Homo sapiens: one gene and its partner. The protein of the gene in region 1 purifies or fractionates together with the protein of each later gene. This does not show direct contact. Each region holds a gene or a part of one and is shown on either strand. Other genes may lie near its edges.

Region 1 (5,605 bases):
TCCCAGCATAACGATGAAGGTTTGTCATAAAAGAAAATTTCTTGTGTGAAATGATTACCAAGAAAGTACTGCATACGCAATGGGGGAAAAGACCAACCCTCAATCAGTTTAATAATCACCTTGGTTATTAAATTCTATGGTAACTTAATTTCAACGTACAAAACTTTCCCTTAGTATTGTAATGAAAACACCATTTATAGAAAGAGAACCAGGAACCTGAAAAATTCCCCTCATTGCATAGATAGAAATCCTCCTTAAAAAACATTTATAACTCGGGTCACTAAAAGTTACGTATGGGAAATCATTATTTAAGTAGTGGGCATTTTATGTCCAGTTTCCCAGGACTTGATGATCCATCCCTAGGGAAGCCTTCAGGATGAAACTGATCTGGGAACAGAGGTTTGAGCTAGGTTAATTCTAGAGGTCGTCCCAGACATTTCCAGATGCCAAGCGGTATCTTTTTTTTTTTTTTTTTTTTTTTGGAGACAGAGTCTCTGTTGCCCAGGCTGGAGGGCAGTGGCGCGATCTAGGCTCACTGTAACCTCCGCCTCCCGGGTTTAAGCGATTCTCGTGCCACAACCTCCTGAGTGGCTGGGATTACAGGCGTGCACCACCGCACCCAGCTAATTTTTGTATTTTTAGTAGAGACGGGGTTTCACCATGTTGGCCATCCTGGTCTTGAACTCCTGACCTCAGGTGATCCGCCCACCTCAGCCTCCCAAAGTGCTGGGATTACAGGCGTGAGCCACTGCACCCGGCCTGAAGATGTAAAATCTACCACGGAAGGATGATCTAAGTGGGGAAGGAGATGACAGGTGACAGCCTCCCGTGTGGAAGCAGAAAGTAGCGGACGGTAGGAGCCGAAGGCTTCCCTCGGGACCCAGCAGACTTCCCGCAGCCTCCTGGGTTCCCGTCACATTCCTCGGAACCCTCAGTGCACCAGACAGGGGGAGCTTGGAAGAGGCAGGTCAAGAATCGCCCCCGACCCCGCCCCAGCGTTCTGCTCCCAGGGCGGCCTCCCACGCGCCCCGGACCACGCAGCCCGATGGGCCAGGTAGGGCGCGTCTCTGCACCGAAAATGCATTAGGGCCCGCGTGAGCCCCGGTGAACATCCACAGTGCAGTCACTAACAGGCATTACTCCTGGGGCCCACGTGAGTCTATTTAGCATGTGAGGGAAACCAGCCACGGCAGGGAGACTGGGGCTCTCCGTGGTGGCAAAGCCTGCTCAACCTGGGCCCGCGGAGGGAAAACTCGGAAGTCATTTCCATTAGCTCCCCTTCCCCCAAACTGATTCGCTTCTGTCAATCCATCCCTAGAAATAATGTCGAGGCCGGGACCAAGGGGTGCTGCGTTTTAAAAATTCTGCATAGGAAAACCCCTGGAAGTACTGAGGGACAGACAGCCCCACTCACCTGTCAGCCCTGGGGGCGTGCGCGAAACCGCCCAAGGAGAAAAAACCAGCTGGTGCGCAGGCGCACGCCGTCCCACATCCGCAGGCCCGCAACGCCACGCCCCCTGCCACGCCTCCGCGCGCCACTAGCCCCACCCGTCTCCCCGGCCCAGCCCGGCCGCTCGCCCTGTCCGGTCTCTCCCCGGCCCCTTGATTCTCCGCGTCTTCCTCGCAGGCCAGCCTAAGCTCAGCCTGCATTGCGCCCTCCCGGCCTAGGGTGTCGCTGTACCGGCCTCCGAGCTCCACATAGACAAGTCCGGACCTCGGGCGGGGGCAGGAGACGGAGCTGAGCGGCGGGGGGCAGTGTCGCCTCGGTCTAGGGACGGCGGCGGAGTCGGTGGTCCCTGCGCGATGGCCACCTCGGTGTTGTGCTGCCTGCGGTGCTGCAGAGACGGGGGGACTGGCCACATCCCTCTGAAGGAGATGCCGGCCGTGCAGCTGGACACGCAGCACATGGGTAAGGGCCCTCCCTTCCCCAGACCCAACGGCTCACGGGGGCCGGGCGCGGCGGGCAGGGGGACCTTCAGGGTCAGAGGGTCCCCACGCTGCCCCGCCGCGCCGGCGACGCTGCGCCGACACCATTTCGTCTCGCAGATCTCTCCAGAAGCCGGCGGACTCCACCTGGGCCCGGTTCTGTGTTCAAGGCTGCGCAGCCCTCTCTGTGTCTGTCATCGCGAATGGGCGTGTGGACCTCCCATTTTCACAGGAATCTCGGAGGCTTCCTCCGGAGATGTCACACGTCCTCGGGCGAGGGGGCGGAGAGTGCCCTTCTGGCGCGCCCCAGTGAAAACCTACACATTTTCAGAATGCTTCTAGGTCCGGTCTTGCTCCTCCTCCTGCCCTGACTGTCGGTCCTGTCTCTTGAGCCCCATCATTTATAGGTTGAATCCTATATTATTGGAAGTAATTTTCCTCTCACCTCCTAAAGTCGAAACAAGGCAGACTGCAGAAGTCTGAAGTCGCACCTCAGGTCAGAACTTGCCATTTCAACTAAAACCTCCCATTGCCCGACTCCTTAGTCATTGTGAGAGGTACTGTAATTTCATCTGACTGGCCTCTTCCCAACAGGTCTAACTGTTGAAAAATAAAATAGCACTTTGCTCCTTTGCATCTTGCTTTATCCTTTTAATTCCAAATCCATATAATTTATCTAACATTCTTCCTCTCCCATCATAGCCTCTTTCACCACCTTATTATTTCTTAGACTTTTCCCAGGTAGTTTCATGCTTCTGGAATGTGGTTCTAGAAGGAGAGATTTCCCAATATAATTATTTCAGTTAGAGTACTGTCTTTTTGTGGATTATTTTATTCTAACTGTACTTCTGCACTTTTGATTTTTTACACGTTTCTGATTGTTTAAAGGACAGTGCATTGAAATAAAAAGGCACTTCTTAATATTTATGATAAAACTCTCTCGCCCAGTTTCCTTATAATTCTGGAAACACTCTGCCCACTGTATTTTTGTATAACACATACTAAATGTGATAACTATATAATCACCTTGTATGTGTGTATTTACTTTTAATTCTCAGATCTCCCAAATGTAGTACAGAACCTTAATACATAAGTAATCTTTAAATTATTTTTTATCCATCATTATTTATAGACGATGGAGTTCAAATTCTATAGTTTTCCTCAGAAAATATTTCCATTTCAGTTACTCATTTACTGAAGTGATATTTATTAAGCAATTATCAGGTGGCAGGCATTGTTATAAGTGCTGAGAATATAGTGAAGGACAACCATACATAATTCCTGGAACTCATGATCAACTGCAGCACTTCTTCCTATCTTTACTGTTAGACTCTTGAATTACTGCAGTCTCCTCTTTGGAGCATTCCTTTTCTCTGTCATCTGTTTCCTCTAGGAAGAGCTGGTCAGATATACTCATTCCACTGTGTTTTATTTCTCCAAAGCTGTCCAGCAACTGTCAGCTACTAACTGGATGAAATAGAGTAATGTCATCTCCAAATTTTCTAACTGCATGGAAGTTTTTTCTTCTTCTTTTCTTTTTTTTTTTTTTTTTTTTTTGAGACGGAGTTTCACTATTGTTGCCCAGGCTGGAGTGCTGTGGCACAATCTCCACTCACTGCAACCTCCGCCTCCCGGGTTCAAGCAATTCTTCTGCCTCAGCCTCTTGAGTAGCTGGGATTACAGGCGCCCACCATCAAGCCCGGCTAATTTTTGTATTTTTAGTAGAGACAGAGTTTCACCATGTTGGTCAGGCTGGTCTCGAACTGACCTCGTGATCTGCCTGCCTCTCAGCCTCCCAAAGTGCTGGGATTATAGGGGTGAGCCACCACGCCCGGCCAGGAAGTTTTTTCTTAGCCTGTCTTTCTATAAACTTAAATTATTCAATCACAGAGGAGCCTGATTTGAGAACCTGAATAAAATGAAAGAAAAGGGTTGTTGAGTTAGAAGAACATGTTTCAAGCATGAATTGATCTTGACTTGAAAATAGAAACACATGGATTTGGTGGTGTGAAAGATTATTATATTAAATAACCTAAAAAATGTGATTGCTTTTTTTTTTTTAACAAAATTGTCTGTATACTTCAAGTGATTCTCCGAGGGTTGTCACTTATTTTAGTGATGTTGTATTACTTAAAACCACTTTGGAATTCCTCTTTTGGAATTTTCTATGGCATAATTTTTGTAAGTATTATCATTGATGCCATATCTTTGGCTTTTAATTGTGAATCGACATTTTAGAAACAAATGACTTCCAAGGCAGCTACTTTGAAAGGGACACCGCTCATTTGGAAATTTATGTTTCTTAAAACATCCTCTGTGGCTATGTTTATGTGGCATTCTGGCTGTACTCAAATTTGCCTTGACCGTCTAAGCAGCACCAATCATTAAAAGTACAGATTCTAAAACCGTCTGTGTACTTAAGAGAAATGGGATAAGCTTAAAATGATTCCCTAATGACTCATAAACACCCTGAATATTCTTTCTTTCTTTTTTTTTCTTTTTTTTTTTTTTGAGAGGGAATCTCGCTCTGTCGCCCAGGCTGGAGTGCAGTGGCCTGATCTCAGCTCACTGCAACCTCCGCCTCCTGGGTTCAATTAATTCTCCTGTCTCAGCCTCCTGAGTAGCTGGGACTATAGGCGCCCACCACCATGCCTGGCTAATTTTTGTATTTTTAGTAGAGATGGGGGTTTCACCATGTTGGCCAGGCTGGTCTTGAACTCCTGACCTCAAGTAATCTGCCTGCCTCAGCCTCCCAAAGAGCTGGGATTACAGGTGTTAGCCACCTCGCCTGGCCAAGAGTGTTATATCCCATTGTGCTCTGCAAAAGTCCTGAGATTCTGATTGTAGTTGATTAGGTCATGTAGCAGTTCTTGACTCAGTTACTGTGGCCAAGAAATGTGGAGGGCACTGATTGCCTTAACCTAGATCAAATGTTGTACACCTGAAGCAGAGATTGAGTCAGCTTTCTTGGAACTGTTTTGATCTCCAGAGGGAAGTCTGTCGGGAGAGGGAGAACAGATACTGCATGTCCACTACAAAGTGCTTAGCACAGCATATTAATTCAACCTTTATCAGTTATTTGATGAGCAGCTGCTCAATGCCAAGCACTGCATGGTCTTTGCCATCAAGGAGGATGCTCTCCAGTTGAAATTACTGGAGGTATATGGAGTAGCCAGATGCAAATTATTTATAAAGGTACTTTCCCAGAATTTGGGGGTTAACTTTTTTAATTAGAAAAAAAAAGATGTTAATGAATTTTTAGTAATCATACAATAGGATCTCAGTTTTGCCTTGTTTAAGGGAGAGCATCTCTTAACCAGTTTAGAATTGTGTTAGAATCTGAAAATTTTGCATTTCTTTTATGTATTTGTACCAAATAATTTTGTTTAACTGTTAATTCAACCTTTTGTTACTATGACCTAATTTTATTTAACCCCTTCTGGAAGAGTCCCATACAGTTCGAATATTCAGATCTGCTTGGCTGGTACAGTTATTGCCAGCAAAGTGGTGGTAGTGGCCACAAGTATGGGGAGTTATGCATTGGTGTATGGGCTATTTCTTACATATTAGAATTATGTAATTCTGTGTATTCTTACATGTTAGAATTATGTATATTCTCTGATAGACATTTTCCTAAATCAAATTGGTACTAGGATCACATCAGGAGACAGTGTCTCTC
Region 2 (5,143 bases), on another chromosome or scaffold:
TATAAAAAATATAAAAAATTAGCCAGATGTGGTAGCGCACGCCTGTAATCTCAGCTACTAGGGAAGCTGAGGCAGGAGAATCGCTTGAACCCGGGAAGCGGGGGTTGCAGTGAGCCGAGATTGTGCCACTGCACTTCAGCCTGGGCGACAGAGCGAGACTCACTGTCTCAAAAAAAATAATAATTAAAAAAATATATATATATTTTTATTTGAAAGTACTGGTATATCAGCTGGGTGCGGCAGCTCATACCTGTAATCCCAGTGCTTTGCGAGGCTGAGGTGGGAGGATCACTTGAGGCCAGGAGTTCAAGACCAGCCTGGGCAACAAAGCGAGATTCCATGGCTACAAATATATGTATATAGATTTAGCTGGGTGCGGTGGTACATGCCTGTGGTCCTAGCTGCTCTGGAAGCTGAGATGGGAGGATCACTTGAGCCCAGAAGTTCGAGGTTACAATGAGTTATCATTATACCACTGCACTCCAGCATGGGTGACAGAACAAGACTTTGTCTCCAAAAAAAAAAAAAAAAAGGAAAAAAGAAAAGAAAGTGGCAACTGACTTATTTATGTATCTATGTTTAGTGAAATTGTATGAGAATTGGTGTGGGAGTTCATAAGAAGGGCTTTATAAGAGTAAAGCATTATTATTTTGAATATAGGGAAATAGGTTCATTTTTCCTGTGGTGTTCATTGCTTCTCAAGTTTTGATGAGCTATGTTTCTATTAGTTAAAAAACATCAACAACAACAGTATGCACTAAGATTCTGCCTTTTTCTGCCCACCTCCACTCTGCCAAGTTCATGAAATTGGAGTACAACAAATGAATTCTTATGTGTTAGGCTGTGCTGTAATTTTACAACTGGTTTAAGCTAAGATTTTACCATTACCACCCTTACAACTGTCATTTCTTGATTTATCCCTTTTTTCTTTTAACCTCTCTCACCCACACACTGTCATTGATTCAATTTAGCTACATCAGCAGTGTACAGTAGCAAAAGGAGACAATAGAAGCAGTGAAGAAGAAGGTGAGGTGGGACAGCAGGAACATAAGTCTGACAAATTTCTAAATGAAGAGTTAATTTTGTCTGTCCCTTGTGGCAAAGTAGATTTATCAAAAACATTTAAATGAATTATTTTTTAATCTCTCTCTCTTTTTAGTTAATAGGCTTCTTTTGTTTGCTGGTGTGTTGTATAGTAAAGGCAATATATGTTAAGACTGCAACTATATTTGCCAGATCAAAAATTTACTGAAATGTAGACCTCAAATATTATTTTAATTTTGTTCTTTTTTCATTATCACCAATGTAACAATGAAGATCGTATCCCATACAAAATTATGAAAATGTGCTTTTTTCCTGTCTTATTTTAGGTTAGAGAATAAAGAGGAGAAGATACTGTTAATGTAAAGCAAAGGGCGATTCCTCCTTAGGGTTTTTACAATAACATTTATTTTTAATAGAAAGATATGTTCTTTTATTCAAATAGTTTATGTATTTTATTTACTTATTTTTGACAGTAGCCTGGAGCTGAGAAGGGAATAAAGCAGGGCTTTTAGCAGGAGACCCTTACTCTTTGTTGAAATATACATTAGGGCTGTGTTTCCAAAAGTGTGGAAGGTATACCACAATATTAGAGTAACAATAAGATTATCAAGTATTAAAGGGTGATACAGTATTTGTGGAAACAAAGACTCTGAAAAGCAAGCTGGCAATGGTTTAAAATAAAAAGAAAATATCATTTGAACAAACAATGGTATTTTCTTTTGGATTATTTATCCCAGAGAAATAAAAATATTTGTAAAAATATAAGAATATAGGGCAAGATGTGGTGGCTCATGCCTGTAATCCCAGCACTTTGGGAGGCCAAGGTGGGCGGATCACAAGGTCAGGAGATTGAGACCATCCTGGCTAACATGGTGAAACCCTGTCTCTACAAAAAATACAAAAAAATTAGCCGGGCATGGTGGCGGGTGCCTGTAGTCCCAGCTACTCGGGAGGCTGAGGCAGGAGAATGGCGTGAACCTGGGAGGCTGAGGTTGCAGTGAGCCGAGATCGCGCCACTGCACTCCAGCCTGGGCGACAGAGCGAAACTCTGTCTCAAAACAAAAAAAAAAGAATATATATGTACAAGGTTAACTGCAGCACTGAATTTTTCCTCAAAAAAGAAAAAAAAAAAAAACAGCCTAGGCAACGTGGCAAAACCCCATCTCTACAAAAAATACAAAAACCTAGCTGGGTGTGGTGGTGGCATGAGCCTATAGTCCCAGTTACTTGGGAGGCTGAGGTGGGAGGATCACCTAAGCCTAGGAGGTTGAGGCTGCAGTGAGCCATGTGCACCACTGCACTCCAGCCTGAGTGACAGAGTGAGACTCTGTCTCAAAAAAAAAAAAAAAAAAGCTATTATATTAAAGAGGAGTGGTAGAAGACTTATGGAATAACTATACTATGAAAGTTATGCAGATACTAAAAAGAATGAGTTAGGCCTAGACCACCAATTTAGAGAAATTTTGCAATGTACTATTAAGTGAGAAAGATGCAAATAAGTATATATAGCATGATTCTGATTTGTAAAACAAAGTCATTTCATGTATGTTTACATATAATATGTTTGTGTATGATTTAATGAGCACTGAGAAAGTTATGAAAGGATAAATACTAGGTTGTTAACTTGAGGGAAGAATAAAGAGGAAAATAAAAATAGTCTCAATGTATATGTATTAAGCTTTGAGCAAGTGAGTAATTTAAAAAGTAAGAATTTAGCAATTCAGAGCCTGAAGCTACAAGAGGATTTCCCAGCATAATTTGGATTGAATAAACCCAGTATGAGACACACAGAAAAGGATCTATAGTTTTATTAACCATGCTATTATAATTGAGGGTTTTCACCAGTTCCTCAGAAATATGGAAATTGAAGATGATAACCTATTTATTTATTTATTTATTTATTTATTTATTGAGACAGAGTTTTACTGTGTTACCCAGACTGGAGTGCAGTGGCATGATCTTGGCTCACTGCAACCTCCGCCTCCCGGGTTCAAGCAATTCTCATGCCTCAGCTTCCTGAGTAGCTGGGATTACAGACACATGCCTAGCTAATTTTTGTGTTTTTAGTAGAGACAGGGTTTCACCATCTTGGTCAGGCTGGTCTCGAACTCCTGACCTCAGGTGATCCACCTGCCTCAGCCTCCCAAAGTGTTGGGATTACAGGCATGAGCCACCATGCCCAGCCTTTTCTAAATACTTTAGAAAGTATTTAACATAAACTATATAGAGTTCTCATTAAAAAAAAAAAGAACAGTATTAGGCATTAAAGGCAGACTAGCAGGATAGTGAGACTTTGTCCTTGAATCAAGCAGAAGGATTGAAAAATAATAAAAAGATAAGAAAATTAGTGTTATTAAATGCCATGTGATGTTCTACTACCAATCAATACACTTTTTTTTTTTTTTTGAGACGGAGTCTCTGGGCTCACTGCAAGCTCCGCCTCCCAGGTTCACGCCATTCTCCTGCCTCAGCCTCCCGAGTAGCTGGGACTACAGGCGCCCGCCACCACGCCCAGCTAATTTTTTGTATTTTTAGTAGAGACAGGGTTTCACCGTGTTAGCCAGGATGGTCTCAGTCTCCTGACTTTGTGATCCACCCTCCTCGGCCTCCCAAAGTGCTGGGATTATAGGCGTGAGCCACCGCACCTGGCCGATCAATACACTTTTAATTGCCTACTATGTACCAGGCTAAGCACTGTACTAGGTTCTACCTTTATAGAGATAAGATAGAGCTGTTTAGTGAGGGTAGGGACAATACAAAGGACCTCAGTGAAGGTAGAACCTCACATTCTTTTTTTTTTTTGGTGGGGGACAGAGTTTTGCTCTTGTTGCCCAGGCTGGAGTGCAATGGCGCAGTCTCAGCTCACTGCAACCACTGCATCCCAGGTTCAAGCAATTCTCCTGCCTCAGCCTCCTGAGTAGCTGGGATTACAGATGTGCACCACCACACCTGGCTAAATTTTTTTTGTATTTTTAGTAGAGATGGGGGTATCATCATGTTGGCCAGGCTGGTCTCGAACTCCTGACCTCAGGTGATGTACCTGCCTCGGCCTCCCAAAGTGCTGGGATTACAGATGAGAGCCACCATCCGTGCCCAGCCTAGAACCTAACATTCTAGGGGCGAGGTGGACAATTAAAAAAGCCCACAGAGCAGACCACGAGGTCAGGAGTTCGAGACCAGCCTGGACAACAAGGTGAAACCCCGTCTCTACTAAAAATACAAAAATTAGCCAGGCGTGGTGGCGGGCGCCTGTAATCCCAGCTACTTGGGAGGCTGAGGTGGGAGAATTGCTTGAACCCAGGAGGCAGAGGTTGCAGTGAGCCGAGATCGTGTCATTGCACTCCAGCCTGGGCGACAGAGGAAGACTCAGTCTCGGGGGGAAAAAAAAAAAAGCCCACAGATTGGCTGGGCACACTGGCTCATTCCTGTAATCCCACCTCTTTGGGAGGCTGAAGCAGGAGGATCACTTGAGGCCACTAGTTTGAGACCAGCCTGGCCAAAAAAGTGAGATTCTGTCTCTACAAAAAAAAAAAAAAAGATAAAAAAGAAAAGAAATTAGCCAGGCATGGTGGCCTGTGCTTGTAGTCCTAGCTACTAGGAAGGCTGAGGAAGGAAGATCATGTGAGCCCAGGAGTCTGAGGTTACAGTGAGCTAGGGTCATGCTACTGCACTCCAGCCTGGGTGATAGAGTAAGACCCTGTCTCTTAAAACAAAACAAAAAACAAAACAAACAAAAAAAAGCTTACTACAGATTGTGACACGTCCAAGGAAGTAAACAGAATAATGAGAAGGGCCATCATTTTTTAAATCATTTTTCAAGAGAGTGGTCAGTGAAGGGCCCTTAGGAGGCAATATTAAGAGCTGAGAACTAAAAGGGAATGAGGGTGAAGTGGTGGAGGGAATTCCAAAGGGCTCACACGTACAAAGCTTAGATATAGAAAAGGGTTTGATGTGTTCAACAAACAGAAAGGCCAGTGTGCCTGAAGCATTGGTAATTAAGTATGGGGGTAAATGGCCTCCCAAAGTACTGGGATTACAGGCGTGAGCCACTACGCCTGGCCGATTCTTTCAATTTAATGTCCTCCTGTCTATAGAGTTC

The links. The genes of interacting proteins can lie anywhere in the genome.
Region 2: the proteins of SPRYD7 (region 1) and SLC25A12 purify together in Homo sapiens (affinity purification with mass spectrometry; one large-scale study listed by BioGRID and IntAct). This does not show direct contact.

The regions. Positions count from the first base shown.
Region 1 is NC_000013.11:49,932,434-49,938,038, reverse strand, and holds the start of SPRYD7 (SPRY domain-containing protein 7), read left to right. Parts: upstream 1-1,698; 5' UTR 1,699-1,803; coding exon 1,804-1,909; intron 1,910-5,605.
Region 2 is NC_000002.12:171,883,484-171,888,626, reverse strand, and holds part of SLC25A12 (electrogenic aspartate/glutamate antiporter SLC25A12, mitochondrial), read left to right. Parts: intron 1-5,143. UniProt on the Homo sapiens protein: Mitochondrial electrogenic aspartate/glutamate antiporter that favors efflux of aspartate and entry of glutamate and proton within the mitochondria as part of the malate-aspartate shuttle.